6 separate regions of the Homo sapiens genome follow, and all the other regions are reported to be linked to region 6. The links are microRNA targets in miRTarBase. Many come from high-throughput screens and were not tested one by one. Region 6 holds a microRNA gene; each other region holds the end of a gene's coding sequence.
What was found. Region 6 holds the annotated microRNA hsa-miR-6826-3p (CUCCCCUCUCUUUCCUGUUCAG, at 2,778-2,799, opposite strand). A microRNA usually pairs through its seed, bases 2 to 8, with sites in the 3' UTR of a target mRNA and lowers its output. Matches are read on the target gene's strand: a 7mer-m8 pairs with bases 2 to 8, a 7mer-A1 pairs with bases 2 to 7 and ends in A, and an 8mer does both.

Region 1 (5,089 bases), not on the chromosome of region 6:
GGTCAGGAGTTCAAGACCAGCCCGACCAACGTGGTGAAACCCCCGTCTCTACTAAAAATACAAAAATTAGCCAGGTGTGGTGGCGGGCGCCTATAATTCCAGCTACTCAGGAGGCTAAGGTAGGAGAATCGCTTGAACCTGGGAGGCGGAGGTTGCAGTGAGCTGAGATCACACCACTACACTCCAGCCTGGGTGACAGAGCAAGACTCCACATCAAAAAAAAAAAAAAAAAAAAAAACTGAGAAGCTATATATGTAATAATTTTAAAGTGAATTGGGTATTTTTCTGATGAGGAAAACCAAGAAGACTAAGTGATTTTCCCAAGATTACATAGTGGTAGAGTCCAAACTAGAACCCAGATTGTCCACCTTCTGGTCTGCTGTTCTTACTCAAGCCTGGAGTAAGTGGGAGCACAGAAAATACTTTCTAAGAAGGAACTACAATGATACCACCACCACATATTTACAAAATATATCCCTATAGCATTATCTCATCTGATTATGTAACCATCACTCTGTGGCTACGGAATTGGAAATGGTCTTCTAAATTCCATGAGGATAAGAGGTGATAATGGGGGCTTGGTCCACTGTGCTAGCTTCTTACCTAATCTTTGTCTTTTCAATTCTGCCTGCCCTCCACTCTCCCATTTCTGTTGCCAGATCATCCTCCTAAACACCAATCAGGCTATGTTACCTCCAAATTTCAGAGGTACCCACTACCTAAAAAATGCTATCTAGCACCCTATCCCCAGCGGAATTTTTTGTTTTTATGACATAAGATTTTGCTTGAAGTGATCCAAAGAGTAAAAAGCACAAGAAACACTGGACCTGGGTGGCTTCCCGTGGCCCTGCCGATTCACAGCAGCCTCCCTTCTGCTGACAGCTTATCAAGAACTACCTGTGCACACACCCCTGTAGGACTCTAGTCCCTACTCCCTCTGCTTTGGGTTCCTCTAGCACAATCTAGCTCCTCTGCACCTGAACACACTTTTGGTTTTAGCTCATGAACAGGCTTCCTCTTCAGACCCCTACGACCTGCTGATGGAATGGAGTAAAACAAGCAAAGCACCCTTTTAATAAATTTCCTCTTGCCCAGTTTCCATTTTGGGGAAAATGTATCATAAAATGTTTTGTTCTTCAGCTCCGTGTAAGTGTACTAAATGTTATCTTCCTCATAAATTCTACCTTTTCATTTGAAAATCCAAGTATTTACAGCCAAATAAGTCAAAATACAATCTGCTGTCTTGTTATTTCTAGCCATCAACACCCTACTAAAAAGCAGGGGGAAATGTACTAAGTCAGAAAGGACCGCCCAATAGGACATTGAAGTTTTTGGAATCTGAAGTTAGAGGGCATATATTTCCTCTTCTCAGATTGATTCAGAAGGCATGTGTGTCTTCTCCCCCACCCTACCCCATGTACTGTACATTAGCTGAAAGGATTTAAATCCTTGTATCCATAGCCCTAAGGCTCCCTGTTTTCCTGGAGAACTCCCCTTGCAAAATCTTCTTGGTGGAAAGGAAGCTCAAAGACCAGAATACTAAAATAGGACTTAAGCAACTCAGATTCTATTAATTCCTAATCATTTGTGGTCTCTCCTAGTCTGACAAAGTCTCTGACAACCAAAAATGAGAATTGTCTGCTCCTTCCTTAAAAGTTACATAACAAAAGCCTGGGTATCTTAAAAAAAAAAAAAAAAAAAAACTCAAGCGGAATTCAGAGCTTAAGAGATATCATAAAGGCCAAACTTACAGAAAAGGCTTATCCCGAAGGAGGCAATCATAATACACACATAATTACAGAAGCCACACAGCTGTAGGCAAGTCTGTGGGAGAAGTACCTTTCACTACAGATTACAGTGTAAGAATGTCCCAAGGGAGACAATTTTCTTTTATGTGCTGTCTAGATTTAAACAATTACTCCATTAGAAAGCTTATCACCAATAAAAAAAAAAAAAAGTCCCTACTCATTCTCCTTCCTTCCTGCACTGCCTGAAGATATAACTCTATAAAGTATAACTGAATATAAATAGCACTGTTTATGAAGCCACAATGGCAAAAGAAACCACAAAAGTGAGGAACATCAAGAATTTGCTAACATTTATTGACGAGCCCAGGCAATTACTGCCAAGTATTCAAAGCTTAAATGATGGTACTAATTTGATTGAGAGTAGTTTTCAGCATCTTTAAAAACAAAAACAAAAACAATTCCCGTAGAACTAACCACTCTAGAACCCATGAGATTAATTGGTATAGAAATGAAAAAGGGAGCCTAAAGCCTTTACGATGTTTCCTGAACAGTTTAATTATAACTCAACCTCACCTAGCTTTTCTTTCCCTTTATAAATTAACATTTCCATCTCACTTGTCAATTCTTCTACTTATATCAACTAGAAAATAGAGAACTATTGCTTATAAACACCTAAACCTATTAAAAAACTAAACCTTTTTACACTTAGATTACAGAGAAGAAAATTATTTAGAAATTGGTTTTCAAGGAAATTGTATATCACTATATTTCTCTGATATACAATTATGGGAAAATATTTCCTCTTAGAATTCAAACATATTGCCAAAGCCATTTACAAGTCTTTCAGTATTTGGCAATGAAGAATAATGAAAAAAGTTGGATAGATGTCACACAGTAATATTAGTAACTGATTTGGCAGCTCCCCTCCCAACAACAAACACATTGAAATTACCATAACTTCTGAAAAGAAAACATTTTCATAAAATACCAAAAGTGGTGAGTATTTCATAATATTCCCCCAAATACAAGTAAGAATGAAGGTATTCACTTAACAGGCTATTGAATTTCCTTCGGACAGTTTAAAGATCGGGACAGGTAAGCCTGGGGCCTTCTTCATTCTAAGCAGTAGCTTTAACTTCTTTATCCATTACCCATGGTACTATAGTAATAAAATATATATATATATATATTTTACATCAGAATACACATAAACATATATACCTAACAAATATATATGCATATGTAACTAAGTTTTACCAAACAATACTTACTCAAATATATTTTCTGTTCTTTACAAATTCTTTCCTTTTCATTTTTTTCAACACCAGTCATTGTCATCTAACTTGATTTCATGTGAAGAGCAAAAACCCAGTCTGAAAAACACAGGTCTGAGGCAATCTTATACTGGAATGCCGGGACCAGGGCAGATCCCAACCCGGTGCTTGGGAGTCCTGCCTGTGTCTCAGGAGCCATCTAGAGTAAAGGCAAAGTACAGACAGACCCAGACCCCGCCCTGGGTAACCAAAGCTGCTCAGCAATTATCTTGGCATTTCACGTAAGACTTAACCTACAGGCAGGGGGCAAAAAAAGTTCTCAGTTAAAAAAATCAAGTTTTAAAATCACTGAGTTACATTACCTTTCCGGGTCCCCTTCCAGTGTATGAGTCTAGAAATAAGTATTCATTATAAACTATAAAATAAGCCACAAATTACTATAGAATCAAAACTGTATCATTAGATCACAAAAACTTTAATAGTCAAAGCTTTGTAATTTATAATGTTAGAATTTCTCAACATACTGTCTTGATTACAAGTTCTGATGGCCAGGCATGGTGGCTCACGCCTGTAATTCCAGCACTTTTGGAGGCCGAGGCGGGCAGATCACCTGAGGTCAGGAGCTCGAGACCAGCCTGGCCAACATGATGAAACCCCATCTCTACTAAAAATACAAAAAAATAGCCAGGCGTGGTGGCAGGTGCCTGTAATCCCAGCTACTTAGGAGTCTGAGGCAGGAGAATCGCTTGAACCTGGGAGGCGGAGGTTGCGGTGAGCCAAGATCGCGCTATTGCACTCCAGCCTGGGCAACAAGAGCAAAACTCCATCTCAAAAAAAAAAAAAAAAAAAAAGTCCTGACGGCACCTCAGCCTCCCCTCAAATTCCCTCCCCGTCCTGCAGAAGCAACCCTCCAAGACTTCTCCCTTACTAAAAGTACACTCTTCTTATAGTCTTATTAATAAAACAATGTTATAATTGCTAAATGTAACACATTACCACATAAACACACTAAGGCACGCCGATTACTAGGCTCCTTAGACAGTGGTCAATTTGAACAAATTGATGTTCCTAAACCAAAAACTCAGCAGCTTTTTTCATTCATAAAAACATGTATCTTCCCGCTGGAATTACCTCCAGCCAAAATATACCGAGTTGGGTGCATGGCATTGATGGAACACACAGAGACAAGGTATTCTCCACCAAACGAATGCACCCTCTTTCCTGTCTCATGGAAGATTTCTACCCGTCGTGGATGGGCCATGCTGCCAACTATGACACAGTCTTCTTGTTTAGGATCCCACATGGCTTGGAACCTGGTCAGCCATCGCCCAGTGAAAGTGTTGTGCCTAGTGAGGAAAACAATATATTTTTTAAATGAAGTAAGGTTAAATAAGGTAGCATTGGGCAGAGGGTAAAGACGGCATTGCTCCTAAATGCTAGTTTTCTCTGCCAAGTTTCTTCTCATTAAGTTACTGAGTTACCACCAACCTTACCTCATCCTTACAGGACTGAACCTCTGGACAGAGACGATATCCTCCTCATCTAAAAATCTCCCAAAATAAAACATATGGAGCCCTTTATAGTTCCCAAAAGCAAAAACAGAAGTACTGCCCTTTTAGTCTTTTTGCCTTAATATCACTAACAATCCTTTTTCATTAAAGTATGGACTACACATTTCCCACTGCCACTTAAATGACCCCATCATTAATGAAAATTCTTACCCCCTAGAATAGTCACCCTACATAAATTTTTTAAAAATATACATAATATGGCCAGGCACAGTGGCCCAAGCCTGTCATCCCAGCACTTTGGGAGGCCGAGGCAGGTGGAACACCTGAGGTCAGGAGTTCGAGACCAGCCTGTCCAACACGGCGAAACCCAGTCTACTAAAAACACAAAAATTGGCCAGGTACAGTGGCTCACACCTGTAATCCCAGCACTTTGGGAGGCCAAGAGGGTGGATCATTCAAGGTCAGGAGTTCGAGACAGCCTGGCCAACATGGTGAAACCCCGTCTCTACTAAAAATAGGAAAATTAGCTGGCCATGGTGGCGGGTGCCTGTAATCC
Region 2 (5,089 bases), not on the chromosome of region 6:
ACAATTCAAACAAGTTTATTAATAAAATGAATCATAATTGTAAATTAACAAAGGGCCTCAGATTTATTTAGCAGGATTATTTATAAAAACATTTCTGGCTATTTTAACAGTGTACTTTTATTTTTCTACCTTATTACACCTTTAAGATGGGCTTGGGAAATATTAATTAAGTGCATAGAGATTGATAATTAACTCAAGACCTGTTTATTTTGTTGTTGAATCTATTTTACAATTTCTTGGCTGGGTCCTTTACGCTAGAGTGCAATAGATAGAAATGAATCCATGGAGGGAAAAGGGCACAGAGAAAAATGGCACCGAAGCTAGCTCGCCTCAGTGCAATTAGACAAAACCCTAACTCACTTTTCAAAGCATATTTATTTAGAATTCAAAGAATTTTAAAAATGTTGTTTATTTAACTTCCCTTCAGAGAGGGAATCTGACATGACTCATTTTCATCAGAGATACACAAACTTCATAAGATGCTATTATTTATTTCACTGACAAAACATCAGTAAATTAATTGCCGCCACTTTAATCAAGGTAATAGGAACCAGGGGGTCATATCTTGTAATTTATTATGATATTCTGAGGTTGAGGAAAACCCATTCATGGAATTTTTTTAAAGCTGTAAAATTTGAGGAAGACCCGAATTAAATTCCTAAGGGAAAAATACAGAAAAAAATGATACAGAAGCTTAAGTGAATATTAAAGTAATGCCAACCGTCTAAGTTACTTAACACTGAGGATCATAACTTATGGAGTCATCAGACTCACGGAAATACTTCTAGAGCAAAAGTAAATGTGAAACAGAAAAACCAGCAACACCACAATGTGATTTGTTCTCCATTAAAAGCCCAAAGACACTGATCTCCAATTATGTGGACAGCCACATTTTGGTTACAAAATCAAATTCAAGTTAATTATGGCAAATCAAACACCACCTATGTCTACTTTGCAAGATAATGCTTAAAATTGGTATGTATATAAAAACATACAAAATAAATCAGATTTCCAAATTAGAACCTTGAAATTAGGCAACTACAATACATTTGGACAGAAGTACGAAGCTTAATATGGGGATTCATTGGCATTGCATGTGATTATATGCTACCATTATTTTGAAAAGTGAATGAAAACTTGAAAAAATAAAATGAAAAAGAATAGCTTTATGAAATTAACACAGCAGGCTAACTTAATGCATTATTTGAAATCATCTTGTTAAATCAATAAAGCACTTGGGTTGGTAATATTTGAATTCACTTTATCAAAAAATATAATCATTTATTAAAATAACATGTCTTATAAGTCTTGAGACATCTCATTCCTTATCTATGTGTGTCACCACCTTTAGAATGTGGGCCAAAGGCTGCATTCAGGTGATAAGGTCTGATATAGCTACTAAATCGTTTTTGATATATTGACAAATTTCAATACTGGCTGATAAATAAGCACCGCCAGAGCCCTCCAGAGAACATCTCCCAACTCTGCCAGAGCGCTGCACTCCCAAGTTTGAGCATCTAGAGTGAATGCCAGGAGAAAAGGCTACCTCCAGACACTGCCCAGCATCGTCATTATCTTCTTTCATGATTAGTCTGTGTCTGTACATTGTTGAGAAATTTTAGAGTTATCACTGAGGAGGCCTGTTCTTCATTTAAAATACAGTTGTTTTCCCATGAAGCTGCTGTGTGTTAAATATATGTGAGCTATTCATTCTTATTATTATACTTCATTTAGTGTTTTTTTTTAAAGTCCCATTGGTAGATTTCTGGTGAAAATACCTTTTAAGCAGGGAATCAGCATTCTGTATATTCAGGAGAAACTGGAGGGGACGGACATGCCGGACAGTTATAGAACAAATTAATAGTAAAATGTTCACCTAACTTATTTCACTATTTTTATTGCTGTTACAAATAAAAAATCTTGACAGTTATATCATACTTTTGAGATTATCATTCAAAGGGAAAGGAGTCCTCTGAAGATTTCTAAATGGAGAAAGCAATATAAGATATGATTAATCCTTTAAAAAAATCTTTGGTGTATTAATTTTAAATTAAAGGGCAAAAAAGGAACCATGGTAATAAATAAACCAGTCAAGCCAAATAAAAAAGGGTACATTTTATCATAAGCAATGTGTATAAAACTATGTAGCATAACAATGAAAAATAATCTTTGTCATGTTCAAAACCTTTTCTGATTCCCTAGTTTATCAAATTCATTGAAGTGATTCTGTAGCTTGACATTTTTTCAAGATAGAGTGTTTATAATGGCTATGATAACTCTTTGACTTTTCTATTATAAAAATTTATTTTCTATTTGCTTATTTTTTAACATATATGACATTGTATTCCTAGTAGGGAAGTATAACAGTAATTCATCTAGTTTGCAAAGCCTGCTTGAATTGCAAAGTCCAAATTTTAGTAGACCAGACTGCTCTGTTAGTGGAAGGACAGAGTTCTTTAAACCTGGAGAATTCAGTAGTTTTGAAAATGTTGGGAAGCATATATACTGATAGTAATTCTTATTTTAAAAATTTATTTTGTAAGATTACACATTGAATATTTTAAAAAATAACCACTCACCAAATCAAACTTTACAGAGTGTGTATATAATTTAATAGCAGTAAAATATATTTTAGGATTTTACTTTATGTTAAACACATCATAATCACTAAGCTTTCAGGTGTATTATGTGTACCTGAGAATAAGAATAATTCATAATGGTGGTTTAATTCATAAAAGGGCTTGTGATTTTAAAGCAGTTTTAAAAAGAGTTCCCTATTCTAAAAGAAGAAAATATTCCCCTAAACTTTTAGAAGCCAAATATTTTGGGAAGTAAACCTCAATACTGAAGGACATCCTGTACCCTAAAAGGTGGAAAGAGTTGACATAAAATGTGTATTTATGTGAGTCAGTTTTTTAATCACTCTAATGGAAGAAAACATTTCTCTTAACTCAAATTAGGAAATTATTATACATTTTATATATATTTATATAAAAAGTCGTAAGTAGCAAGCATATGACATAAAGAAATGGAAGAGTAACAACAGTATTTGACAATGCATGCTTTTCACAATGTGTCTAACAAAAAGGATATTTTCCCAACTCAAATATCCAGTACTGACATGCAGGGTATTTTCTCAAACTGTCAATTTGGTCATATTGCTGAGTGCTTAATCAAAAACATTTCTACTGTAGAGTATGAATGGTAAAATACCTGACTTCAAAAAGGATTTCTGAAACTCAGTACTTTCTTTGATATAAAACAAAAAGGAAATCAGGGGTATACAGGAAAGACCAAAAAATGAATTTTTTTATTGCAATCTAGTAATTTTACTTGTTACTTTTTCCTGTATTTAATCAGAATATAATAATAGGTGTGTATAGTCCATAACCTCTAGCTGGTGATTCCATGGTCCACACTGTCACTTTTCACTGTAGCATGTTCAAAATCATTCAGGAACGCACTATTCTCAAGCTGTCTATATAATGAAAACAATGTACATGTAACACAAGGTTCATCCAAATTCGTGTTTTTTTTTCACATATCACACAATGTACAATTATATAACAAAGACATAAAACAACATAGAAACAAAAGTGAAACTGACAATAAAAATAAAGTTGGGATAGTCTTAATCGGGAACTAATTTCTTCTTCAAGTTTCCAGTTAATCTCAAAATGTATTTAAAAACTAAGGAGCACTTGGTGGCCAGCAACCAAATTACGAAATGAACATATCAGTGTGCAGCGGGGATGTCTTGCCGAAGGAATAACAAATGTCTGTAATTCTTAAGTTTGGATAAAGGCAGTGGAATGAATTTAGAAATATGTCCACTTTTCACAATTCACTATAGAATTTTCTTTTCACAGTCCCCATGTTTGTATAAATAGTTCTTCTCTGAAAATAAAAAACAGTTAAAACATTTTCTCCCAATGAAAAATGCATACAAATACACCAATTTATTAAGGTAATATAGAGCATGGAAATGCATTCACCTAGTTCAAGAATAGTTGATAGGCTTGAGGAGTTTAGAAGAGATTAGCTGTCAAGCAGATTCAATTGGAGACAAATTAGGCTAATATAGATATAAACAATCAAGAGCAAAAAGTAAAGCCATTGTGATATCTGATGACAAAATCGATGTACACGTAGACAACTGGGATTAATGAAACCTTTTGCATTCAAATTTTATAGTATAAAATTTGACTTAACATGCTGCATTTAATTTTGATGAGATGAGCTACATATTCATGCAAAAATAAGAGTCTATAAATTGTGTCAGTACCAAAAATATTTAGTGTACGAATTTTGAGTACAATTGTTGCCAAATTACATAAAGAAAGTAGTTACCAGTTTTAAATATTAACTTCAGCTATACTGAGACTGAATATTCTATTTTCTTAGTTTAAAAACCTTGGTTTTTTTCGAGTATTTCTTTGGAGATAGTTCATTAAAACTTTACCTTAAAACATGTAAAGTTTAGATTATTAATTTGACGTCCTTCTAAATTACATTTTAGTACAATTCTTGATGTTAAGAATACTAAGATTTGTTTTAAAGGTATGTATCCCGAGAATCATCTCTCCTATAAACACTGAACCCATCGTATTTCTAATTGTGAAATGTCATGAAACACATATCTCAAGAAATAATGGATAAATAGCACATTCCCTAAAAAACTACAAGACAGTTGCAACAAAACAGAATACGACAAAGTAGGAAAAGGAACCAAGGGCATCTGCTTACCTTGAATTTTCTTTCTAGACCCTAGTTGTGTTGTATTCAGATTCATGTTTGCTTAGAGACCCAATGAGGCAGAACCTGGAATGTTATGGCTATTTCATTCAACAAAGTACTATTTGCACAAAAAAATATGTATACAAATATTTACTCAAAAGCATTTTTAAAATTCAGAAAACTGTGGAAATAGACTTATGTCAGCATGCAAAACATATCAAATCAACTGAAGTATTTTAGGTTTTGAGAATGTAATGAATGGAGAAAGTATGTCACGATTTATAAAATAAACTAAATGCTAGTAAACATGCAAAACGAAGTATAAGTTGACAAGATTTTGGAATTTAAAATA
Region 3 (5,000 bases), not on the chromosome of region 6:
CAGGCACCCGCCAGTAATCCCAGGACTTTGGGAGGCCAAGGTGGGAGGATCCCTTAAGCCCAGGAGTGAGACCAGTAGCCTGGCCAACATGGCAAAACCCCATCTCTACTAAAAATGGAAAAATTAGCTGGGCATGGTGGTGCATGTCTGTAGTCTCCGCTATGTGGGAGGCTCAGGTAGGAGGATCACCAGAGCCTGGGAGGCAAAGGCTGCAGTGAGTGGAGACTGTGCCACTGCACCCCAGGCTGGGTAACAGAGAAAGACCCTGTCTCAAAAAAAAAAGAAAGAAAAAAAAAAGACAAATGGTAAACAAGACACTTGTAGTATATTAAGAGCTTCACATTAAATATTCATCATTATACAGTGTGTCACATAGATTTGGAATGTTACAAGAGACTTCAGCAGTAGGTGGCTGGTTTAAGGCTCCTGGCAGGGATGCAAACAGCCCCAAGGAGGGAGGTGGAAAGGCCAAGGGGCACCTGTGTTCCAGGACCAAGGGGCTTGCCCTCCTGCAAGCGCGCCTGTGAACAAGTCCCCGTGGGGTTCTGGGAGGTGCGCCCACATCTAAGACTGTGCGCCCTGCACTCCCTCTGGATGGCTTGCCGAATTTGGTCTTCGCTGATCACCAATTCTGGAAGGGTGGAGAGACAGTTGGCTGGACAGCTGCCTGATTCGGCCATGACCCTTCACGGGTGTCTGTGGGCCAACACCAAACGCCAGCCTGCTCTGCTGGCAGGGCTTCTACCTGCACAGTCCCTAGGGCTGCAAGAGCAAATGGGGACCCTGGCTGCCGGTCCTTGCCAGGCCCTTGGTCAATGATATCACCACTTCTGAGACAGCGTCTGGGGAGCTACCGGAACTTCGTGTTCAGCATCTTACAAAGGGGGCCGCTGGTTCTGGGAATGGGCAGAGGGAGCCTGCAGCTCCACCCTGTTGACCGGACGCCTTGCGGGTAGCTGCTTCAGGTTTCCCTCCTGCTCACTCTCAGGCCACAGAGGGGCCCCGGCCCACAGCCGCCCTGTGAGGACAGGGCCTGCCTCCTGAAGCCTCGGAGTCTTTGCACCCCTTTCCTGGGAACAGCTACGCTGTGAGCCTCTCTCCAGGAGAGGGTGTCAGCCTGGGCCATTCTTCTGACTTCAGGACGGGACTGGCAGGCGGTGGGGCCCTCTTCCCCTACAAAGCCTCCTTTCTTTCTGTGGGCGCCATCCTGTTTGGGGGGCTGCCAGAAGGGCCCTTGACTCCTCAGCGCTCAAGGACAGAGTTGCTCAAGTGGGCAGGCATTATGGTCAATAATAAAGCCAGCAAAGAAGGGAGACACAGAAACAGCCGCTAGTGCTGGAGGTTCTCAGACAAAATGCCGAGGGCGCGACGTTGTGTGGCAGGAGCTTTTCTTTTCTCTCAAAGAAATCCAGCTCAATTTTTTCCCCAATTAATTGGCAGCAGATGAAAAAAAAAAAAAACAAACCCAAAACAAAAACCAAACCAAAGCCAGTAACCTGAATGTGAGTGTTTCTGAAAGGGAAAAGCTGTTTCAATTGTTAGATGTCCAAGAAAACATGAATACAGGCTGACACAGGAAACGGTCACAATTAGAGGAAGAAGAGGGAGAGGTTCATAAAATTAAGGGAAAAAAATTCTTTTCAGCAGCTCCCATCCTGTAAGCTGGCTCCTCTGCTGGCCTCTGTCCCTGAGAGGGGCAGGAGGTTGGGCCTCCCAGGGAAACTTCAGGAAGACGAAGGCCAGGGACAGAGGGAGGGTCCCAGGAATACCCTAAGAGGCCAAGTCAGGGCCAGAGGGCACAGCTGCCAGCTTCCACTGAGACCCTCCCAGAGCCTTTTCTGAGGAGCAATGTGCCCGGGAAGATGGTCTACAGGGAAGGACCGTGAGGTGCGGCCCCACCCAGCAGCCTCAGGAAGTGGCTGGACCTGAACTTGCCAGTGTGAGGTCTCACCCTCCTCCCCCGCCGGAGGGTTGTTCCCCCTCTTCCTCAGCCTCTCTTGGGCCTCCTCTGAGAATAAGCCTTGGGGTCCAGGCTCCTCTGTTTGGCCAAGTGCCAACTCCTCACTCATCTTGTCATTTCCCACCTACCTTCCCACTCCCCCAAAGGAAAGCACGAATCGTTCCAGGGTGTCCCTGCCTTCCTCCCTCATTGAGGGATGTTTTAGGAAATGCCAAACAGGCAAGGAAAGGATTGGCTTCTTTAAGAGATTAAACCCAGGCCACAGCCAGCGTGGTCTCTATGAGGGCTGGGCCACGTGGACGTGCCAGACAAGGCCTGGGAGGAAGACCCAAGAGGCAGACTGGTCACTAAAGGCGGGTCACCAAGGGCAGGGCTTTGCACAAACCGCTGAAGTCCACGCAGCTACCTAAAGGGGCAGGGCTCAGTCCCAGCTCGACACGTGGCCTTGGCGAGTCCTCCTTCTCCGGGCCTGTGTCTCTGCATGTGAACAGTGAGCTGGAACCACCTCCAAACAGTCTCTAAAGACATGAGCAGCGCTGATGTCTGAACCTGCTGATGACATTCAAACTCGGCCCCTTGTGCTCTGCCCAGGTGGGCCAGGGATGACAGTCGTCAAACTTCTAGTTCATTCAGACCAGCTGGTGCCTGGCGAAGGCTCTGGAACCCTTGTATCTCATTCAGGAGAGGGCAGCCACATCTTCATGCTACTGGGTGGGTGGAAAAAGCAGGAGAGCTGAGAAACTCTTAGCCTCATCGGGGCTGCCTGGCCTGTGTGGGAGGACCCTGCTATGGCAAGCAAGAGAGAGGTCGCGTGTGCGTGTGCGTGTGTAGGTGTTCTTGTGTGTGGAAGCAGTGTGGACCACTGAGGGCTGTGTGTGTGTGTGTGTGTGTGTGTAGGTGTTCTTGTGTGTGGAAGCAGTGTGGACCACTGAGGGCTGTGTGTGTGTGTGTGTGTGTGTGTGTAGGTGTTCTTGTGTGTGGAAGCAGTGTGGACCACTGAGGGCTCTATGTCCCTGGGAGGTCAGGATTCTCCCTCCTCCATGGGCAGGGTGACAGCAAGGCCATGCAGAACCAACGAAAGAGCATTGGCTGCAGAACCGCTCTGCTGCTGGTGAGCTGTGTGGCTTTGGGCAAATGACGTTCCTTCTCTGTCTCCCTTTCCCTACATGCCAAATACCTCCCAGGTGGTGCTAACAGATAGTGGGGAGAGAGCCCTTTGTAGCCAGCTGGGTGCTGTGTCCAGGGGTTGGGGGGGTGTCAACACAGACGTCCCACTGCAGGAGGGAAAGACTGGTTTTTTGGTCAACACTGGAGGCTCCTGACTATGTCCACTGCTGAAGCCTGAACTCTGAGCTCTGGGTTGACTCCCAGAGTGCTACCGACTGCCTCAGCCCAGTTGTCAGAGCAGACGGCTCTTGTGTCCAGAGCTGCTGAGGGCTGGAGCTGAGGCCTCGGCCTCCCTCCCCTCCCTGGGGCCTGCCACAGCAGCAAGCCCAGAGGAGACACGCCTTGCTCTGGGAGTGAAACCAGAACTGCCCCCTCAGAGACCCTCTGCAGTATATCAAAAAAGGATAAGGCTATATATTAAATGACTATTTTATTTACACACCCTATTCATAAATAATTGAATCCTCTTTTTGACTGCACAATGATTCCTTGAAGATAGCCTAATGATTACACTGAGTGACTACAAGTAGATCAGTGGGCTTACCCATCTGTGTGTGACCACCTTCTCACATCTGTACTCACACACACACTCACACAGACACACATATACACACCAGCGGGGCGGGAACCCCGGGGCCTCCGGGACTCTCAAAGCACCAGCATTTGGCTCCCAGCATCAGTAGGGGGGCTCCTGTGGGAAAACTTTGCCCTGTACAGAGGTGTGAATTTGAGACAGCTGGAGAACAAAGAGATGTCAGCCAGGGAGCTCCCGCCCCACCCTACCCCGCCCCTCGGAGCTGGTCTGCCTTTGTTCATCCTGGAAGGCATCTCTTTGGATTTGCAAATATTTTAATTCACAGAAACTCAAGGAGAGGGTGGGGGTGGGGGCTGGGGTGGTGTGTTGCCGCCCTTCTGTCTTTATCCAGGCCTTCTCCAGCCCCCGTAAGTGGCAACAGCATTCTAGAGACATGCAGTGGTGTGCTAGTACCATACACACAACACAAACGACACAGCCAGCAACAGTGGCTGGGCTGGTTGGTGGGGGGCCTCTGGCACCTCCAAGTCTCAGGCTCTGTCACAGAGCAGGGCAGGTCTGGTCCGCTCACAGGGTCCTCACAGCCACGGGATAGAGGAGGGACAAGTGCTCAGCCCCTTTGATGGGTAGCTTTCTGGTGGTGTAGTAGTGGATGACTTCCGGGACACTGTCGAACGGAGGGCTGTTCTGACCCAGAACGTATTTCTCTTTGGTTTTGGCCAGTTTCATGTGCATAAAACCCTGGTTGCTCCTGTGAACAAAACACAGAGTTATCAGAACTACCCCCCTGACACTCAGGCTGAGGCCAAGGGTCTCCTCAGCTGTCTGGGACAGAAGGGATCCCAGCCATGAAGTGGCTGTGAGCTGCACCTCTCCAAGCCAGGACCGAGGCCCAGGACCAGATGAAATGCAGCTGCACCCAAGCGCACCCCCAATTCCGGCATCTGACCCGGAACCAGCAGCAGCCGCCACTGCTACAAGAGAGCATTCCAACACTGAGCGCTTCTAGGGACTTCTTCAGAAAAACAAAACAAAACAAAACAAAACAAAACAAAACAAAACAAAACAAAACAAAACAAAACTTAGTCCCTCTTTTCTATTACCAGTGCATATCCCTGTTTAAGCCTTGCCTGACAGGTGCAAAGTGTGTTCATGTCCCCAATGCCATGACAAGTGGGTAGGGCAGGGGTCATCACCCCCAGTTTCCAGAGGAGGAAACTGTGTGGCAGGGATGGCAAGTGATCTGTCCTTCCCTTTCAGTAGTAGGAAACTGTCACTGGGAAGGGGCCACCCAGCCAGGGACTACATTTCCCAGCCTCCCTTGCAGGCAGTTAGCCA
Region 4 (5,089 bases), not on the chromosome of region 6:
CTATGAATGTGAAAAATGTGGCAAAGCTTTTAACCAGTCCTCAAATCTTACTAGACATAAGAAAAGTCATACAGAAGAGAAACCTTACAAATGTGAAGAATGTGGCAAAGGTTTTAAATGGCCCTCAACCCTTACTATCCATAAGATAATTCATACTGGAGAGAAACCATACAAATGTGAAGAATGTGGCAAAGCTTTTAACCAATCCTCAAAACTTACCAAACATAAGAAAATTCATACTGGAGAGAAACCCTACACATGTGAAGAATGTGGCAAAGCCTTTAACCAGTCCTCAAACCTTACTAAACATAAGAGAATTCATACTGGAGAAAAACCTTACAAATGTGAAGAATGTGACAAAGCTTTTAAATGGTCCTCAGTCCTTACTAAACATAAGATAATTCATACCGGAGAAAAATTACAAATATGAAAATTATGGCAAAGCTTTAATCAATTTACAAGTCTTACTAAACATAAGAAAATTTATACTGGAGAGAAACTACTAACCTGAAAGATGTGACAATAATTTTGACAACACCTCAGACTTATAAAAGTAATCATACTGGTGAGAAATTCTAAAAATGTGAAGACTATGGCAAAGTCTTTAAATGGTTGTCACACTTTAGGTAAGATAATTCATATTGGAACAAACTACAAGTGCAAACAATGTGGCAAAACTTAATTTATGCTCACACCTTACTGCACAGAAAAGAATTTTTAGTTGAGAAAAAGTATACAAATATAAAGAATGTGGAAAAGCCGTTAATATCTGCTCACATCTTACTCAGCATCAGAAAGTACTTAATAAAAGCATTATAAATGGAATTACTGTCAAAAGCATTCAGAAAATATAAGCCTTTAATGTGAAAAAGAGTAACCATTTTGAAGACAAACATTGCAAATTTAAAGAGGGTTGTAGTACCTTTAATTGTATCACAAATCTTATTGTACAGATTTTGTACTAGAGGAAACCCCTGAAGCAGTTGCTTAAATTTTGTTTAAAATCAGATTTTTTTTTTTTTCTTTTTGAGACGGAGTTTCGCTCTTGTTACCGAGGCTGGAGTGCAATGGCGCATTCTCGGCTCGCCACAACCTCTGCCTCCCGGGTTCAACCGATTTTCTTGCTTCAGCCTCCTGAGTAACTGGGATTACAGGCATGTGCCACCACGCCTGGATAATTTTGTATTTTTGGAAGAGACAGGGTTTCTCCATGTTGTTCAGGCTGGTCTCAAACTCCTGACCTCAGGTGATCCACCTGCCTCAGCCTGCCAAAGTGCTGGGATTAGAGGCATGAGCCACCACACCTGGCCAACATCAGAGGATTTATATTTGAGAAAAACCCTGCAAATGTAACAAATTTTGAAAAACTTTTTCAAAAACTACAGCTTAAAAAGCAGCAGAGGATTCATACTAAAATATATTTTTGCAGATGCAGTAGATATAAAAATATATTTAATCCAAAGTTAAGTTTATGTAAATATCAGAGGATTCACAGTAGAAATATCTAAGGTGCTGGCACTTCAGACACCACACTAAATCAGAGTGCTGAGTATAGAAAATAATCCAAAACTAAATTTGGTGGATTAATTATTTGTATATAACTTTAAAAGAAGTAGAACTTTTTTTGCAGAGTTTTAATTACATTCAAAGTATACTTTTTTCCTTAAAAAAGTTAGGTTTTTTTGAAAAGAAAATAATCATGTCATTCAACTTTCAAATTACTTCATGCTCTTTCTTCTTCATTGCTATTATATTCACATGTGAAAGCATGTGATCAGTGGTTGCTACATCAAAGATAGGAGATTTTTTTTTCTTAGGTCATTATTTATGACCTTTTCTATTAAAGAATAAGAACATTAGGCTGGGCGCAGGGCTCATACGTATAATCCCAGCACTTTGGGAAGCTGAGACAGGCAGATCATGAGGTCAGGAGTTTGAGACCAGCCTGGCCAATATGGTGAAACCCCATCTATTAAAAACTACAAAAATTAGCTGTCCACTGTGGCACGCACCTGTAACCCCAGCTACTCGGGAAGCTGAGGCAGGAGAATCACTTGAACCCAAAAGGCAGAGGTTGCAGTGAGCCGAGGTCGCACCACTCCACACTAGCCTGGGCAACAGAGCAGGACTCTATCTCAAAAAAAAAAAAGTATACTATTCTTTTTTTTTCTTTATTTATTTTATTTTTTATTTTTTTATTGATCATTCTTGGGTGTTTCTCGCAGAGGGGGATTTGGCAGGGTCATAGGACAATAGTGGAGGGAAGGTCAGCAGATAAACAAGTGAACAAAGGTCTCTGGTTTTCCTAGGCAGAGGACCCTGCGGCCTTCCGCAGTGTTTGTGTCCCTGGGTACTTGAGATTAGGGAGTGGTGATGACTCTTAACGAGCATGCTGCCTTCAAGCATCTGTTTAACAAAGCACATCTTGCACCGCCCTTAATCCATTTAACCCTGAGTGGACACAGCACATGTTTCAGAGAGCACAGGGTTGGGGGTAAGGTCATAGATCAACAGCATCCCAAGGCAGAAGAATTTTTCTTAGTACAGAACAAAATGAAGTCTCCCATGTCTACTTCTTTCTACATAGACACAGCAACAATCTGATTTCTCTATCTTTTCCCCACCTTTCCCCCTTTTCTATTCGACAAAACCGCCATCGTCATCATGGCCCGTTCTCAATGAGCTGTTGCGTACACCTCCCAGACAGGGTGGCGGCCGGGCAGAGGGGCTCCTCACTTCCCAGAAGGGGCGGCTGGGCAGAGGCGCCCCCCCACCCAACTTCCTGGACGGGGCGGCGGCCAGGCGGAGGCGGGCCCCCCACCTCCCTCCCGGACGGGGCGGCTGCCGGGCGGAGACACTCCTCACTTCCCAGACGGGGTGGCTGCCGGGCGGAGGGGCTCCTCACTTCTCAGACGGGGCGGCCGGGCAGAGACGCTCCTCACCTCCCAGACGGGGCCGCGGCCGGGCAGAGGCACTCCCTGCATCTCCGACGATGGGCGGCCGGGCAGAGACGCTCCTCACTTCCTAGACGGGATGGCGGCTGGGAAGAGGCGCTCCTCACTTCCCAGACTGGGCAGCTGAGCAGAGGGGCTCCTTACATCCCAGACGATGGGCGGCCAGGCAGAGCCGCGCCTCACTTCCCAGACGGGGTGGCAGCCAGGCAGAGGCTGCAATCTCGGCACTTTGGGAGGCCAAGGCAGGCGGCTGGGAGGTGGAGGTTGTAGCGAGCCGAGATCACGCCACTGCACTCCAGCCTGGGCAACATTGAGCACTGAGTGAACGAGACTCCGTCTGCAATCCTGGCACCTTGGGAGGCCGAGGCTGGCGGATCACTCGCGGTTAGGAGCTGGAGACCAGCCCAGCCAACACAGCGAAACCCCGTCTCCACCAAAAAAATACGAAAACCAGTCAGGCGTGGCAGCGCACGCCTTCAGTCGCAGGCACTCGGCAGGCTGAGGCAGGAGAATCAGGCAAGGAGGTTGCAGTGAGCCGAGATGGCAGCAGTACAGTCCAGCTTCGGCTCGGCATCAGAGGGAGACCGTGGAAAGAGAGGGAGAGGGAGACCGTGGGGAGAGGGAGAGGGAGAGGGAGAAGGAGAAGTACACTATTACGTATGCTCCAGCCTGGGTGACAGGGCGAGACTCCATCTCAAAAACAAAAAAGGAGCGCACCAGCATGGCACATGTATACATATGTAACTAACCTGCACAATGTGCACATGTACCCTAAAACTTAAAGTATAATAAAAAAAAAGAAAAAAATAACCATTGTACCACCAAAAAAAAAAAAAAGAATAAGAACATTAAAACGTAAGATGCATGATGAAAATCTAAGTGGTGGGGCTCTTTGTGGTTAACATAATATTGAGTGATATATGAGGTGGTTGTTTAGAGTAATATTCTTCTGCATTATAGTAAATGAAAAACATTTTTAATATTAGTTAAAATTAGTAATATATTATTTTACTAATTATATTTCTATGTAATAAAATGCAGTACGTTTTTAAATTTTCAGACTACATGTAAACTTAGTTTTATAATTAAACTTTTTTAAACATATTATGATCATTGTGCATTCAACGATGCGTTGTGATGCCACTAAGTTTAACCTATCTACCGTACTCAAGAATGTAGTTAAAAGATGGTTACAGTGTGCAGGTTGGTAACATAATGAACTAACATCTCTTTTGCCAGTGGCTTTAAACTGCAAATAGGTTAAAGAATATTGTTCTTGTAGGTTAAATTTTTATTCTTTTTTTCTTATATGAACTTATTTTTAAAAATTTTTGTGAGTACATAGTATGTGTATATATTTATACCATATATAGAATATTTTGATACAGGCATATAATATGTAACAATCACATCAGGGTAAGTGAAGTATCCATCACCTCCAGCATTACCCTTTGTATTACAAACCTATTCTACACATTTAGTTCTTTTGAAATGTGCAATTGTTATTGGTTACAGTAACCAATTTGCATGGAATGTCTATTTCCATCTGGCCACTTTGGCAAGTGGCAAGATTTTGGTCATGATTTTGTTTTATGGTCATAATAAGAATTGTATAGAAGTATTAATAAAATCCATACATTTCTGAATTCTGAATAAACATTTAAAAATTTGTTAATATTTTTCTTTAAACATGTGGTCTTACTGCCTGCAAACACATACAGACTCTTAATTTTTATTTACATAGATGTAAATATACACATATATTACTCTAAAGATAAACCTTAAGGGTAAGAAAATTATAAAGTATGTGTGTTTTTGTGAATATGAATTTGTACCTATATTCAGAAGAAAAGAGCAATATTGGCACAAAACAAATCATCTTAATAAGGTAACTAATTGGCTGTGTGCAGTGGCTCACGCCTGTAATCGCATCACTTTGGGAGGCTGAGGCGGGTGGATCACCTGAGGTCAGGAGTTCGAGACCAGCCTGACCAATATGGTGAAACCCCATCTCTACTAAAAATACAAAAATTACCTGGGTGTGGTGGTGTGCACCTCTAGTCCCAGTTACTCAGGAGACTGAGACAAGAGAATTGCTTGAACCCAGGATTTGGAGGTTGCAGTGAACTGAGATT
Region 5 (5,088 bases), not on the chromosome of region 6:
TGTAGTGCATGGAGAGGGTGCCCAGAGGTGTTGGGGCAAAGAAGTCTCAGGGATTGGTGTGTTTTCAAGGATTTTATACATTTGGGAAATAGGAAGTATGTGGGGGTGGTTATTGTGACGGTAGTGTTCTGTTAATATCTTGAGGCTCCATTAATCACCGGTCTGACCATGCTAATGGTTTACATCAGGTTAACACTTTACACCTCATCACTCACCCTCCACAGCCCGATTTGTGCTGAGTTCTTGATCTTTTCTTTACCTGAGTGTTGCCATGAAGCGTGTGGGGAATCTCAAGTCGATTTAAAAATTTTTACATTTCCGTCTCATGGCTTCCCACTTTGCCCCAGGGAAAGTTGGAGAGTACGGCTACCTGGGTCAACCCAACGCGGTGCGCACCAACTTCACTACCAAGCAGCTCACGGAACTGGAGAAGGAGTTCCACTTCAACAAGTACCTGACGCGCGCCCGCAGGGTGGAGATCGCTGCATCCCTGCAGCTCAACGAGACCCAAGTGAAGATCTGGTTCCAGAACCGCCGAATGAAGCAAAAGAAACGTGAGAAGGAGGGTCTCTTGCCCATCTCTCCGGCCACCCCGCCAGGAAACGACGAGAAGGCCGAGGAATCCTCAGAGAAGTCCAGCTCTTCGCCCTGCGTTCCTTCCCCGGGGTCTTCTACCTCAGACACTCTGACTACCTCCCACTGAGGCGGCTCCAGCCCCAGACAACAGCCCAGGCATCTCCTTGGGCTGGGACTTCTTACCCAAAGCACATGCTTAGCTTATCTTTCTTTCCATTTACAGTCTCTTTCTTCCTTTCTAATCCTATCTGGGGAGCTCCTGGCCAGGATAATATATTTGCAGATAATTCTGGACCAGAGACTTGGTGCGGGGTTAACACCTTCATCCAGATTGGGTGCCAGCATACATTTTCTGGTGGGCCTTAACATCCCTCCTGCTTTTAGGAGAATTCACAGAACCTACTGTTCCTTTCAGATGACCTTTTGGAAAATAGTTCCCTTTGCCAACAGAAACATGCCAGAAGGAATCTTCTCATCTTTTATCTAACTATATGTACAGCTCTCCCCTCCCTTGTCCTTGAAAGTAGGATATAGCGAAAGGCGAGTCCAGGAGCTCAGGAAGAAGAGATGCACTATATGTTTACACAATTAATTCATCCCTTAATTTAAGTCATTTTCATGTGTGTGAGTTTGCTGGTTGTAAATACTTTGTCCTAAGAGATTTATCTTTATACAGATTTTCTAGAAATGTTTAGGTTACTAAAACAGGGTGGGCAAACTCTCTAAACTGGTACAATTTTATAGGTGAAAGAAAAAATTCCCTCATTTAAACCCAATCAGATGCCTCAGAGGGTAGCCTTGATTTGTTCTTACAGTTAAGAAGCCCTGCAGAGCACAAACTTCAGAAACCCGGCTTCCTGTGCTAAGTCTTTCCCAATCTCTACCCCTTTCTTCTCGGGCCACCCTCTGTTTAAAATTTGTGCTGGGTTATTCAGAACCTAAAAGTATTATTCAAACCAATTTCTTCCTTCCACAGTTATCTTAGCTGGATATAATGTATTTTCAGCTCAATTGTTAATGTGATGGATGGCACAATGAATGTATATTTTGTGTTATTCGTGAATAGTCTTTTGCATGTCGCACAATGTTTGATGTCCCCAAAGTACCACACTGAGTTCTATCAGTTATCCTTTGTGAGCCTATGATATTCCCCATTTCCTGTACAATCATGAACAGCTCTGAGATCCTGGAGTGATATGATCCAGAGCAGAGTTTACGGGTCTTAGGATGTCTGTAATAAATAAATATACTCAAGTTTCAGGTATGCTTAAGCATCCGTGTATTTGGCTGGGCTACAATTTGTTAATTCCTATGAAGTTGGCACATTTCATGAGGGGAAAGGGAGAAGGGTGGTAAATATTTTCAAAGAGATGGGCCTTTTCTTGAATAAAAGTTAATAACAGCTCCTTTATTATAATCAAAGCTCATAATGGAAAAAAAGACTGATGAAGAAATTTATGAAGCAGATTTATTTTTGAAACAAACATGGATACTTCCTGGGTCAAGTGCTAACCTTTTCACCTCCAACTGGATGTTGACGTATATATAAACAGAACTCCCTTCAAAAGCCAAAACTGTCTTCAGTCAGTCTTTCCTCACATCAGTGAACCAAGAGCTAAGAGATTCACATTTAATTAGCTCCAGTATAAAGTTGTTGTGAGGATGGGGCCCTTATTCCACTCCTCTTCCTTCTTTTTGGATTGTCAGGCAGAGTTCTGATATATTCCACCCTTGAAATGGAGTGTTTTTAGTAAACCCTTGCATCCCTTCCCCCATTCTTCCTGTCAACATCCATCCCTTCCTGCGGCTCTTCACCCCTTCTTCCCCATCTCTGGGTTGCACATCTTATTCCCTTCAGACTCAGCTTTGATTTCATAGCCGTCATGGCTGTAAAGGATCCACAGTTCTAATTCCATGCCACATAACCCAGAAAAAAAAAGTCATTTTCTTCTCTGGGCTCCACAGGTACTTCCAGGTGAACTTGTGGAAGCTACCCTGAAGTCTTTCAATATCCAAGTTGTTTCTGACCAAGGTATGTATCTGCTCTCAAAAGAGGAAGCCAGCAAATGATAGAGTTCAAAGTGGCTCTCCTCCCAGGCCTCTTTATTGCTTTCCTTTACTTTCACACATTTTTGGAGGCATTTTATTTAGCCCAACAGTACAGCAGAAAATTTACAGCATTGAAAACAAACACAGACAGATGACTTCCTTCCTCCCCAAAGGGTGTTTTACAAAGGACGGGCTGGAGGAGAAAAACCCTACAAAAATTTGGAATTTGCAGGCCGTCTAGGGCACTTGTGAGAATTCCTGCACTTCCCTGTCAAAGAAGAGAAGGCTGAACTTTGCGGTGCAGTTGCTGCGGCCATATCAAGGGCACCGGGTGCCCTCCCCTCAGCTGCTGGGTTCTGAGGTTGCCTGTAAAAGACTCAAGTGGATGGAGAAGAACTTCAAAGACGGTCAACCCTTTCTTTCATTTCCTGCCTGGCCTTATACTGTATCTTTTGTTTATTAGTGTAGGGCCACACAGCAAAACAGATGGCTGGCTTCCAAATACTTTAATGTGTTAAAGTGTCATTTGCATGCCATTGACTCCATTTCAATATCTAAAAGCAGGGCGAGATCCACTGGAATCCCAGAGATTCCAGTCTTTAAGATGCTGGTTTTAATGTAGCAGCAAGAGAGAACAATAAATTATGGCTAACCATCTCTAGCTTTCTCTAGGTCATGGAATAAATCAGTTAACAAGCAATGCATTTAGGAAACATTAATACACCTTTCAACAAGGAAAACATTTGTATCTTTTTAGCTGTCTCAATCGATTAAATCAAAGGCGCTTAACACATCCTATTTCAAGGTCTCTCTGCTTTGGTCTCTAAGGAGCACAGTTAGCTACTTGAAAAATGACAGCAATGGTAACTGAAACAACACAGAGTGGGAAAACTGAAAATAACATTTTATTGATACATTTACAAAGGAAACAAGGGTCTCAGTTAGGCACCTGGGATAACTGCGATACAAAATTCTAGTTTTCCAATGTTTTTTTCCTCACTTCCTCTACATTTATCCACAGTACTCCCCAAATACAGAGTGTTCCCAAACTAGGCTGAGTTGAGGTCTTGCTTTGGCTCTGAAGTCTGCTCTGGGTTTCACCTTTTAAAGTTTACTTTTGGAGGCTATTCAAATGCGGTGGTGTTTTCCTCTGGGGCAATCAGATTCAAACCGATCAATATTTACTCAGTCTGAAAGGGTTGTTGAAAAGGCTGCTAACAACAAACTGCTTAGCTGCTCACCCCTGTTTAATCTCAGGTTCACCGAAAGTTCAAGAAGAGATGAATGCAGTGATGGGTCACTTTAGAATGAGTCCCAGCAGTTTATCTGAGCTCTCAACTAAAGGCAACAATTATAGTTCCATCCCTCTTTGGAAAAGGGGCAACTTTCCTATTATTCTTTTGCTAAACAATGTTTACTAGAAACTTAAAACACTTTCCTCTCCCCTCTTGGTTCTTTTCTTTTCTTCCTTTTTTTCTTTTTTGTTTTTTGTTTTTTGGAAGCTTCCAGCTGCCCTTCTCCTGCCCCCTCCTCTAGTTTTCTGCCAATCCATTCAGTTTCATTTGACTTTAAATAAATCACATCAAATATTGTTAAAATGTTAAATTAGTCTGACAGAAGATATCTGATTTATTTCAGATGCCACAAGCTATGAAATGAAGCTCTTTGGGCCATTAGAGTTTATCTTTGTGAAAGTACAGGGCAAGATTGAATTGAAATCCATTTGTGTTTGAGTAATATTGACAATCAGAGCCCCAATATCCATCTGAGATGGCTGTTGAGTGGGAAAGGGGGGAGGGAGAATTGGCTTGCGCAGAAGCAAATACCTCAGGTGGAAAGTCAACTTTTAAATTTTACGCCTTCTTAATGCATGAAGTATTGAGAGATGAAAAAGGAAGACACAAGGAAGCCAGTGGGGAATGGTGAGTAGAAGATGCTAGACACTGAAGCTAATTGCTACAGCTCTTCAGAGGTCAAAGTTCATGTAATCACTGCATAAATGCATACTAAATAGGGATTTATTAAGCTTTCCTGATGGCTGAGCACGTCTGTGAAAAATGGTCACTGCTGTTTGTGTTTCCTCCTTAAGAATAATCATTCTTAAAGCAGAAGCTCTAGGCATTTCAGGCTTTAATTTATTTTGAGAGACAGGCAACTCCTGTGCTTAAAAATACTGAAATTAGTGCATGAACAACATCTTTCTTTATATTGGATGGGGCTGTAAAAGAAACGCTATGGCTTTTTCAGTACATACAAGAACACCCTTTAGTTAGCATGCCACTATTGGGATAAGCTAGTCACTGGTCAACTTTGGTGACCCTCTGCCTTAGATAAGTCCCCTTTGTGCCTGCATTTGTGAGAACACACAAAAATTCTGCCTTAGGACTCCTTGTGCCTAAATGACCAGAATTGAATGGGACCCACATCCCTAATCTCTCACTCTATGGATCAGAAAAAGGCACC
Region 6 (5,089 bases):
CTTGAACAGTAATTAGGCCAGAGATGGCATTCCCAGGATTTTACCTTCAAGTGTCTTGATGGTAGACAAGGTGAACGTTTCCTCCTTCTCAAATTCATCCCCTACCTCATCCCAGGCTGCTTCGAAGTTCAGTTTCATGACCTTTTGAATGTGATCAGCTACAGTAACTTCCAGATCTTCCAGCTGGAGAGATGGAGGTAGAAATCAGGCACCCATCTACACACCTACGGGCCTCTGCTCTGAACTCATCCACACATCCCTTCCTGCAACTCTTTCCACAGGTGCTTGCTCGGCACTGAGGACTGTGCTAGACTCTGGGGACATAGAGCAACTTGACCAGGTACCTATCCTTGAGGTGCCCAAAGGCAAATGGTATCCCTTCAACAGAAAACGCCCTAATCCCAAGTACCAATCTACTAATTCAGCCTAGAGCCGCCTGCTGTGAGATCACATCTCTTCTAAGCCTGCCTAGTGTCAGTGCTTCCAGGACCTGGCATGCAGGGAATTACATAGCATTCTCAGAGGTCTGCTTCCTATGCCTGTCCCTCCTAGGGGATGATGAGCTCTTCAGGACCAGCAGCTGTTTCTAGTTCAGCAGAAACTAGCAGAAACCTCCTACCCCAGCTGTGTCCTCTGGATTTGACAGATCCTGAATCTCTATCTCCATTTCAGCTGTGTCTTCCCTGAACTTGACACATAATACTCCCACTGAGTCTACATGAAGGTTCCCCATTCATTCTCCCATCAGATTTTCACTGAGGCCCTACTCCTGTGGATGTTTACAGTGTATATAAATACAACTTAGACCCAGCTCTCTCTCTCTTTTTTTTTTTTCTTCATCTCTGGATGGGCTCAAACAGACCCAGCTCTCTCAAGGAGCTCACTTGGTCTTAGAGCAGCTCCTGCCTCGGGGTCATTTCCAGCTCAAGGAAGGTCCATCCATCCTCAACTGTGACTCTAGGATGACACAATGGCGAATGTCAGTTGTATTCCACTGTGACTGTCCCTCTAGTCAGGAGGAGTTCTAACAGTCCCCATCCACAGGCTGAGCATAATGGTCTGCACTCAGATGGCCCTGAGCCACTGCCCCAAAGTCAGACCTCAGAAGGATCCTGTACTTAGTTCCACCGAGCTAAGATAGGAGAATTTAGAAGGGCTATTCCAGTGCATGAAAGGACTGCCCAGCACAGCAAACAGGTCAAATTTATCCAGAAAGCATTTGACAAGAGGAATCAAAATGTCTTAAAATCATGCTTACCCTTTGACCCAACTATTCTCCTTCTAGGAATCTATCCTAAAGAAATAATCTAAAATGCAGATAAAAATTTGTATCTAAAGGGATATTTAATGCAGCAATATAAATAGTGAAAATATGGAAACCCAAATGCCCAACATTAAAGGAGTGAAAAGTCAATCAAGTTTTGACATAGTATATAACAGTATTTTAAATCCACTAAAAAAATTGTGTTTATGAAGTATTTGTAATGATACTGGAAAATACACTATGGTTTTAAAATAGCAAGGTCTACACTGTAAGAATGATTTCAATTATACCACTTCCCCCCAAAAATAACTCTAAGGATTATGAGTAATGTTTTCCTGTTGTTCATACTTTGTTTTGAATTTTGTTTTTGTATTTCCCAAGTTTTCTTTTTACACATGAACATGTATTTCCATAAGTTTAAAAAGTTATTTTAGGCCGGGCGCGGTGGCTCACGCCTGTAATCCCAACACTTTGGGAGGCCAAGGTAGGTGGATCACCTGAGGTGAGGAGATCGCGACCAGCCTAGCCAACATGGTGAAACCCTATCTCTACCAAAAATACAAAAAATTTGGCAGGCATGGTGGTGGGCGCCTGTAATCCCAGCTACTTGGGAGGCTGAGGCAAGAGAATCGCTTGGACCAGGGAGACAGAGGTTGCAGTGAGCCGAGATCGCGCCACTGCACTCCAGCCTGGGTAACAAAAGAGAAACTTCATCTCAAAAAATAAAAATAAAAAAATAAAATTTTAAAGAGCTAAAAAGCCAAAAACAGCTCCAGTCTCACTGTCAGTTCCTGAAGGGAGTTGCTTTGCAGCCTCAGCACAAAACTGAGCTTCCTGACACCAGGATCTTACCACATACTCATCCTCATAGCCTTCGTCATCAGTCTCCCCAGTGGTGGGATCACAGTCCTTGACAGTGAACTTCATCATGCAGCTGAATGTGCAGGCCACTGTGGGGAAGAGAGGCTGGGTAGTTAGGATGTCCCCAGCCTGCAGGGGATGGGCTCCTCCTGCAGGGGACAAGCAGGCAGGGGTCACAGCCTGCTTTCTAGGCCCCTGCTATGTTATTAGTAGCAGCAACAAGCCATCCAATCCCACAAAGCTGGACAGAGGGTGCCACCTTGTAGGACAGGAAAGTCATGAGTTCTAGTGAGATCCTGTCTCTTTAAAAAAAAAAATTTTTAAAGAAGAGCACTTGGGACTCAGCTATTCTTCTTCTTGGGACTGAAATCAAGGAGCTGAAGCTCTAATAGAAGGCAAACAGCTGGTGCCCAGCCGCCCACCTCCTCCTGACCCCATGAGCTCCCAGGAGGATAGGGTGGTATCTGGAGAGGGGCTCACCAGCTGTGGGGTCTTCTTTGGGCAGTGCCACCAGTGTGTAGCAGGTCCCGGGCTGGTTGTAGGGCAGGCTCCGGGCAGGCACGTAACAGAGCACCTCATAGGCCTCAGTGGGCTCCATCTGCACTGTGACATTCTCCAAGGTCTGGTCATTGAGTGTGTTTGTGCAGTCAAACTGAACAGGAAAGAGAGGGGAGCTTAAACATTGCACTAGGTCCGAGCCATGCTGCAGAGGAAAAGCCAGGAGGTCCCACCTCTTTCCTATTGACCAAGGTGATTCCCATCCCAGTCCCCCTGCCCCAGGTTCCCTGTCTTCATGCTGACAATCGGGAGCCATGGATGTCCCGAGTCAAGAGATATGAGAGACCGACCTGTTGGGGACAGATTCTGTCATCAAGTTGGGCTCCCAACCAATGCAGTGTGGGGACCCATGACCCTACAGGACCTGCCAGACCTGGGACAACTCCCTGGGCGCATGCCCCAGCAGGGCCTCAGCCCACCTTGCTCACCTGAAAAACCATGTGGTTGGTGAAGGTGTGTTTGGTGCAGCGGATGACATACTCCGTCTCTGACTCGGTGAGGGCCACGGGCTCAGGCGAGGACTTGAAGAGGGGCCCAAGACCGCGGAACTCTGGCACTGCTGCCAACTGCTCTGAAATCCACAGGCCACATTCACTCAGCTTCTCGATCCCCAGACCAACTTGTTGATGGTTTCTAATAAATTCCCATGACCATTCTCAAGGTGTTCCACCCTACCTTAGATGGATAGATATGTTTACCCAACTGGCTACTCATTATTTCCTGAATATATCCATGCATTTTCTCATCTCCCTGACTTCGCTCATGTGGCACAACCCCCCACAAATACTCTCCCCATCTCTGTACCATGAAAGACCTCAGAAGCAAAAAACTGATATGAGACCACAAAATCCTAGACCTAATTGGAGAATCCCCCAGCTATAGAAGCTTAGCAAGGATTTCCGCCCCCTACCGCAGCAAGGATTCTTAAAAGAAGGTGACAATTAGGAAAATAAGATCGATACTGCTATAGCTACAAAATCAGACAAAATAACAAACTGGTCCTATATATTTATCAGTTAAGACAAATGGCCAATAAAGAGATATTTCAGAATGAGAGTGTTGCAGAAAACCTAACTTAGAATTGTTTGTGTCTGGTAAGACCTATCCCTACACCCTATGCCCAGGTTCAAGCACTGGATTCAAGCACAGGCCCATGGGACCCCACCCTGGCTGGTCCTGGCATTCCTTGCAAACTAAAGGGAATAACCCAAGTGAATGAGGCATCTGGCAGATGTGTGCACATGGTGTCCACCTATAATGGCTACAGCTGCCACTCTTGTACCTATTCTATGGCAGGATTCCTCGCACTATGACCATGGATCAACTGTATCAGAATTACTAGGGGTTGGCGGCAGAGCTTGCTAAAAACTCAGACTCCATCCCAAATCTACTACATCAGAATCTCTGGTTTCAGGATCAAGGAATTTGCATTTCTAACATGTTTCCTCAGATTATTCCAATATATACTGATATTTAAAGACCACTGCTCTAAGATTTTCAACTTGTCTTCCCAATTAATTGAACTCCATGAGAACAGGGATTGTGCTTTGAGGCCATGGATCTGATATTTTTCCCTTTACTTAGAAGGTACTCAATTCACGTTTCAGACATAGAGAAAGGTAGGCCTTATTTTTATTATTTTGCTTTTTTCCTCCACAAAAAGTCAGCCTATGTGACCACTTCAGCCCTCTGCAGCCTGAAGACTGAATCTAATGAATATGCAGGCAATAAAAAGCCCAGAACAATCCAGGCTAGATATTAGGAGGAACTTTTGGGCCACCATGACCATCAACCACTAGAGTGCTTTTCTATTGATATTTATTTTCTTGGGACTCAGAGTTTTGGGCCTGATACTTACTCCCTGGGGGATTCTGTTGGTAGGGTTTCAGACTCTTCATCAATAAAACTGATATCATTATCTTGATCACAGCGTTGTTGTAAAGACAAATGAGGCAATAAATTCAAGATCTAGGAAAGTTCTTGGAACTGAACATGTATGTGATTAGTAAATGTGAGGCTTTTGGATGATTGTTTAAAAATGGAATTGTTACCCTTTAAGCGGCTTAGGAGACTTCCTTGGAAGGTGTGGCAGAATAATGACTCCAAGATGCCCACATGCTAATTCCCAGAACCTGCAGCTATGTTACCTTGCATGGTAAAAGGGACTTTGTAGATGTGATTAAATTAAGGATCTTGAGCTAGGGGTTATCCTGGATTATCCAGGGGGGGCCAGTGTAATCATAAGGGCCCTTCTAGGGCAGAAGGTCAGAGTAGAGAGATTTGAAAAGGCCAGGAGTGTGGCCTCTTCAAATCACTCTACTCTGACCTTCTGCCCTAGAAGGGCCCTTAAAGACGGTGGAAGGGGCCACGAGCCAAGGATACGGGCCACCTCTAGTAGCTGGAAAA

Region 1: the mRNA of WDR76 is a reported target of hsa-miR-6826-3p. Seed matches in the 3' UTR shown: 7mer-m8 at 3,894-3,900 and 7mer-m8 at 2,669-2,675.
Region 2: miRTarBase lists NETO1 as a target of hsa-miR-6826-3p. Seed matches in the 3' UTR shown: 7mer-A1 at 2,796-2,802.
Region 3: miRTarBase lists SHB as a target of hsa-miR-6826-3p. Seed matches in the 3' UTR shown: 7mer-m8 at 3,422-3,428 and 7mer-A1 at 1,169-1,175.
Region 4: miRTarBase lists ZNF85 as a target of hsa-miR-6826-3p. The part of its 3' UTR that is shown has no 7-base or 8-base seed match.
Region 5: miRTarBase lists HOXA1 as a target of hsa-miR-6826-3p. Seed matches in the 3' UTR shown: 8mer at 1,908-1,915.

The regions. Positions count from the first base shown.
Region 1 is chr15:43,865,407-43,870,495 of GRCh38, reverse strand. It overlaps WDR76 (WD repeat domain 76), which reads right to left. Exons shown (of 13, transcript NM_024908.4): 13 at 2,084-4,368. The coding sequence ends at 4,104. Among named protein-coding and RNA genes, the nearest start is that of WDR76, 41 kb to the right of the region's middle.
Region 2 is chr18:72,744,268-72,749,356 of GRCh38, forward strand. NETO1 (neuropilin and tolloid like 1) reads right to left here. Exons shown (of 11, transcript NM_138966.5): 10 at 4,747-4,821; 11 at 1-3,897. The coding sequence ends at 4,761. Among named protein-coding and RNA genes, the nearest start is that of MIR548AV, 110 kb to the right of the region's middle.
Region 3 is chr9:37,915,592-37,920,591 of GRCh38, forward strand. It overlaps SHB (SH2 domain containing adaptor protein B), which reads right to left. Exons shown (of 6, transcript NM_003028.3): 6 at 307-4,413. The coding sequence ends at 4,230. Among named protein-coding and RNA genes, the nearest start is that of SLC25A51, 14 kb to the left of the region's middle.
Region 4 is chr19:20,949,873-20,954,961 of GRCh38, forward strand. ZNF85 (zinc finger protein 85) reads left to right here. Exons shown (of 4, transcript NM_003429.5): 4 at 1-825. The coding sequence ends at 430. Among named protein-coding and RNA genes, the nearest start is that of ZNF85, 29 kb to the left of the region's middle.
Region 5 is chr7:27,090,055-27,095,142 of GRCh38, reverse strand. It overlaps HOXA1 (homeobox A1), which reads left to right. Exons shown (of 2, transcript NM_005522.5): 2 at 348-2,150. The coding sequence ends at 703. Among named protein-coding and RNA genes, the nearest start is that of HOXA1, 3.4 kb to the left of the region's middle. RefSeq lists enhancers at 55-555, 556-1,056, 2,645-3,555.
Region 6 is chr3:129,269,932-129,275,020 of GRCh38, reverse strand. MIR6826 (microRNA 6826) reads right to left here and starts at 2,875; the gene lies at 2,778-2,875. COPG1 (coat protein complex I subunit gamma 1) reads right to left here. Exons shown (of 24, transcript NM_016128.4): 19 at 3,112-3,254; 20 at 2,606-2,777; 21 at 2,117-2,214; 22 at 45-183.